Linked DNA regions of Homo sapiens: region 1 is linked to region 2. The links come from fine-mapping of genetic effects on gene expression. Tissue or cell type: whole blood. Region 2 holds a variant in brackets; the other region holds the start of a gene. All regions are shown on one strand. Distances are between the middles of the regions.

Evidence for each region. PIP is the estimated chance that this variant, and not a neighbour inherited with it, causes the effect.
Region 1: NKIRAS1 starts here. The variant in region 2 is fine-mapped to the expression of NKIRAS1 in whole blood (TOPMed, PIP above 0.99).

What each region holds. Positions count from the first base shown.
Region 1 is chr3:23,915,768-23,918,388 of GRCh38, reverse strand. It overlaps NKIRAS1 (NFKB inhibitor interacting Ras like 1), which reads left to right and starts at 1,399. Exons shown (of 5, transcript NM_020345.4): 1 at 1,399-1,605. RPL15 (ribosomal protein L15) reads right to left here and starts at 1,257. Exons shown (of 4, transcript NM_002948.5): 1 at 1,216-1,257; 2 at 358-539. The coding sequence starts at 529. RefSeq lists enhancers at 516-615, 545-1,744, 996-1,795.
Region 2 is chr3:24,095,138-24,097,897 of GRCh38, reverse strand. It overlaps the pseudogene NPM1P23. Among named protein-coding and RNA genes, the nearest start is that of LINC00691, 6.7 kb to the left of the region's middle. RefSeq lists an enhancer at 2,652-2,760. The variant C/AC (reference allele first, on the strand shown) is at 1,194.

The DNA of each region.
Region 1 (2,621 bases), 180 kb after region 2:
TAAGACTCAATGGCTTGTCACTAATACTCCACCAAAAATACTTCAACAGTAAGTTAATGCTATCTAATAGAAAAAAATAAAACACATCCCAGTCTTTTTCAATGCACCTTAGGCTACTCACACAGGGAGGCACACTGTTTATTTTGCTTTAGTCTGAACTCATTCAGATTTGTAACCTTTGACACACTTGCCACTTTAGACAACAGTGCATACAGTAACTGACCAGTGTTGCTAGCTTTTTTCTGCCAAAGCCCTATGCGAAGAAAGACACTGAGGCAGCAGTGTCTTCCTAACAGCTGGTTTCCAACTTTTCTCGAATATAATTTTATCCAAGCATCCACGCAGTCGATCACGTACCTTGCTTGGCCTTGTAGCCCAGTCGGCGCGCTTTATCAGGCCGGGTGGGGCGGGGAGCCCTGTGGAGAGCAGAGAGCTGGCGGTACTGCCAGCAGCGGACCCTCAGAAGAAAGCGCATGACATCAGACTGCTTCTTTCTCCATAGCTCCTGGATGTACTTGTATGCACCCATCTTGGCTTACCTGTGAAATCAAACTGTGTATTAAATATCATCCGCTTTAAGTACAATAAGACGACTGTATCCGTCCATCTTAGTTCCCCAACAAAAACAAGGAAACCGCCGGGAATGAAAATGGCTCTGCACCAACTGCCGGGGACAGCTAGCCCAACCCCCACCACTGCGCCCACGGAGCCGCGTTCAGTCACTTCCGCAACCCCAGCACAGAGCGGTGCTCGGCACGTTTTGGTGGGGCGAATTAACAGAACCAGAACTGAGCACCAAGGGGGCGGGTGGCTGCGGCAGGCGGCGTCCCCAAGGAGGACCTGAAAGGAGATGCCGCTGACATCACAGGACAAGGTACTGCTGCGGCCACCGAGGATTAACTCTCGAGGAAAATGCATCTACCCCACCCAACCAGCAGCCTCACTTTAGGCTGCCTTGTCCCGGGCGCCCCATTCGTCAGCCCCACGCCTCCTCCAGGATCCGGGCCCAGCTCGAATTCGCGCCGCCATCACATCTTCGCTCAACCCGCCCCGGGGGCCGCCTCTCCACCCCTTTGCTGTCCCGCATCCTGACCAAACTCTGGCCGCACAGGAGGGAGACCTATCTCCGAGGACGCAGGGTCCCCGGACCTGGATGGCTGAAGAGGAAGACGATCAAAGGCGGATGGAAGAGCAAAGATCCTCAACGCAGCCTACCTGATGGCTGCCGCCAGACGGAAAGGAAAGAGCTGTACTCCCACAATGCCTTTTGGGCTCCTCCCCCACCTCAGCCACCCTCTTTCCGGTGGAAAGCTGCGGCCTCCCAGAGCGTCATGGGACATGTAGTTCCGGCATCGCGCCTGGTGGCGGAGTTCTGCCGAGTGGGGCGCCGCGGCCGCTATTGTCCCGCCCCCTGCTCCGCAAGATTCGAGCCTGAGCGGCCTGGGCGTCTCGAGAGGTGAGAGAGTTGGCGGCGAGGTCTCGGCGGCTAAGCGAGCGTCGGCGACTGTCTCTCCGCGAGAGGAGGCAAGTTGGGGTCCAGGCTCCAAAGCCGGTGGCCGCGTACCGCGGTGGAGCCGCTGTCTTTGAGGTCTGAGGAGAGAACAGGTTTGTTTCACGCACCGCGGGCTCTCCCCCTGCGGAGTCTCTGCGTCTCCGCGTCTCCGCGCTGCGCTGTCCCTCTCTGGCCACCGCACGACGGGCGCAGAAATCTGGGCCCCAGAGCTGCGCTGAGAGATCCCCCGACGCTTCCCCAGCCTCCCAGGGAGGCCTTCGCGGAGTCGGGGCGTCGCGGGTCGGGGCGCTCGCTGTGTCCCTTCAGCTCCAGACTGCGTGAAGCTCCTCCAGCAGGCCCCAGCGCCCAGGGATTTTGTCCTAAAAAAGGGTCATGGAGTGGGTGGATTGCGGGCGGCCCGGCGCTTTTTCTGCATACGGATTTCGTCCCAAATTTGCTAACATGAGAACCACAGTTTTTCAGAAGAGCAGAATGTTTATTTGCCAAGACCTGTTTGGCAGGTGTGAATGTTTTAGAGAAGAAATGCCGAGAAAATGCTGGCATTTTGCGTTGCGGGTTTTTTTTTAAATTGAGAAATAGGTTACTGGCTTACTTTGTTTCTCCAGAATATTTTCACTTGGCTTTAATTTAAGTCATGTGGCTTTAATTTCCTTCCAGATTATGCGTTCAGATGTGGCAAAGGCTTAAGAGAATCATTATCTCTTAATCGTAGCGGTTTTGATTATCTTTTTTCCCACATCATATTTTTCTTTCTTTCTTTTTAAATCACAGCTTTACGTTTTTAAGAGTCTCTATCTGGTTCATTGATTGATTCAACAAATATTTATTAAGTGTCTAATATGTGCCAGGCATAGTTGCTGGGGATGCAGCAGGAAACAACGCAGAATTTTTGGCCTTCTTGGAAATGGGCAGTAAGCAGAAGTAAGCTGTGTTTTGGGTTTGGTGGTAAATGCTAAGGAAAAAAGATAAGGGGAGGGAAGTGATGAGGGAGTGTTAGCGGCTGAGGGTTGCAATTTGGAATGGAGTGTCCAGGTTAAGTCTTTGAGAGAAGGTAACATTTAAGAAAGGACTTCAAGGATAGGAGTCTGGGAGTAAGAGTAGGGGTCTG
Region 2 (2,760 bases):
GTACAGTGGCATGATCTCAGCTCACTATAACCTCTGCCTTCCGGATTCAAGCGATTCTCCTGCCTCAGCCTCCTGAGTACCTGGGATTACAGGGGCGCACCACCACGCCTGGCTAATTTTTGTATTTTTAGTAGAGACGGGGTTTCACCATGTTGGCCAGGATGGTCTTGATCTCCCAACCTCGTGATCCACCCGCTTCGGCCTCCCAAAGTGCTGGGATTACAGACGTGAGCCACCACGCCCAGCCGGTTGCCACACAATTTTACACACTTGTAAAACCTCATTAAACTCTTTGGTTAGAAAAGGTAAATTTTATTGTATATAAATCATATCTCGGTGAACTAGAGTTTTTCAATGCATGCAGAATATAAAATCTCTACATCACATAAAAAAATTTTAAGTGCCTAAATACTTCCTACATCAAGAAAATAATTCTGTGCCTGGTGTGATTCTGTCCCGCACAGCTGTTCTCTGGAGCGGTAGTTGTTTATCTCCGTCTGCCTTCTCTCTCACCGAAGTGTATGTCACCACCCCAAGGAAGATTCAATGGACATGGACACAAGCCCCCTGTGGCTCCAGAACTATCTTTTGGTTGTGAACTAAAGGCCGATGAAGATGATCGGTTTCGGGTGGATAATGATGAAAATGAGCACCAGTTATCTTTAAGCACGGTCAGGTTAGGGGCTGTGTAAAAGATGAATTGCACATTGTTGAAGCAGAGGCAATGAATTATGAAGGCAGTCCTATTGAAGTAACACTGGCAACTTTGAAAATGTCAGTACAGTCAACGGTTTCCCTTGGGGGCTTTGAAATAACATCAGCCGTGGGATTACAGTTGAAGTGTGGATCAAGGCCAATGCATATTAGTGGGCAGCACTTAGCAGCTGTGGAGGGAGAGGCAGAGTCAGAAGATGAAGAGCAGGGGGATGTGAAACTCTTAGGTATTTAATATATCTGGAAGGCAATCTTCCCCTGGAGGTAGCAGCAAGTTTCCACAGAAAAAAAAGTAAAACTTGCTGCTGATGAAGATGATGATGATGATAATTTTGATGATGAAGAAATTGAAGAAAAAGCTCCAGTGAAGAAATCTATATAAGATGCTCCAGCCAAAAATGCACCAAAATCAAACCAAAATGGAAAAACTCAAAACTATCAAGACCAAGATCAAAAGGTCATGAATACTTCAAAAAAAA[C/AC]AGGAAAAAACTCCTAAAAATCCAAAAAGGACCTAGTTCTATAGAAGACATTAAAGCTAAAATGCAAGCAAGTACAGAAAAAGCACATTGAACAGTCCTGGGCAATACTGCAAAATTAAGTCCAAAGATGGGGACAGAGGAAAGAGAAATATAGTCCATGCTGAGTATCATCAGCCATCCAGACTGAAGTCTTCTGTTTTAATCTGAATCCCCTTTTCTGATTTGCCAGCCATGCTCCTTCCAGGCTGGAAACGAACTCACTCTTCATGTCCTAAAGCACTTTCTTTTGACAGCTGTGATTCTGTGAACCTAGCCCCTTGCTTTCTGTTACTTGCACATTTGCCTCACCTCTCTGACCATGTTTTAATCACCTTTGGGTCTCCTTGGCTGCTCAATAAATATTTGAATGAATCAAAAAAGAAAAGAAAAAAGAAAAAAAGTCCCTATACTACAGAATATTTTGAAATGATATTTCTGTATTAAAATTGATGGAGTATTGCCACAGCAGTGCTTAGAAAAACACTCATTTTTCTAAATTAGGGAAGAAAGAAAAAAACACCATAAAAGCAAAGCCTTTATCTGCTAAGAGGCTAAAGTGAAAAGCCAAAAGAAAATAGTAAAATGAAAATAATAAAACTAACAACATAAATGAACAAAATGCTTATAAAGTTGAGTTGAGGCCGGGCACAATGACTCATGCCTATAATCCCAGCACTTTGGGAGGCCGAGGTGGGCAGATCACTTGAGGCCAGGAGCTCAAGACCAGCCTGCCCAACATGGTGAAACCCTGTCTCTACCAAAAATACAAAAATTAGCCAGGCGTGGTGGTGTGTGTCTGCAGTCCCAGCTACTCAGGAGGCTGAGGCAGGAGAATTGCTCGAACCTGGGAGCTGGAGGTTGCAGTGAGCAGAGATCACTTCACTGCACTCCAGCCTGGGCAACACAGCAAGAGACTCTGTCTCAAAAAAAAAAAAAAAAAAGTTGAGTTGGTAAATCAAATTAATAGTTGGCTTTTTAAAAATTAATAAAGTTGAGGACATGTTCCAATTAACAAAAAAAGGAGAATTGGCAAATTTATCAAAAATAATAAAATGCAGGGAGATAAATTAACAGAAAAGGGAGAATTGGCAAATTTATCAAAAATAATAAAATGCAGGGAGAGAAATAAGATATCAGCAATGGATAGAAACAACCATTTTAAAGTAGGGATGAGGGAGGAGGAGCCAAGATGGCCGAATAGGAACAGCTCCGGTCTACAGCTCCCAGCATGAGCGACGCAGAAGACGGGTGATTTCTGCATTTCCATCTGAGGTACCAGGTTCATCTCACTAGGGAGTGCCAGACAGTGGGCGCAGGCCAGTGGGTGCACGCACCGTGCGCGAGCCGAAGCAGGGCGAGGCATTGCCTCACCTGGGAAGCGCAAGGGGTCAGGGAGTTCCCTTTCCGAGTCAAAGAAAGGGGTGACGGACGCACCTGGAAAATCGGATCACTCCCACCCAAATATTGCGCTTTTCAGACCGGCGTAAAAAACGGCGCACCACGAGACTATATCCCACACCTGGCTCGG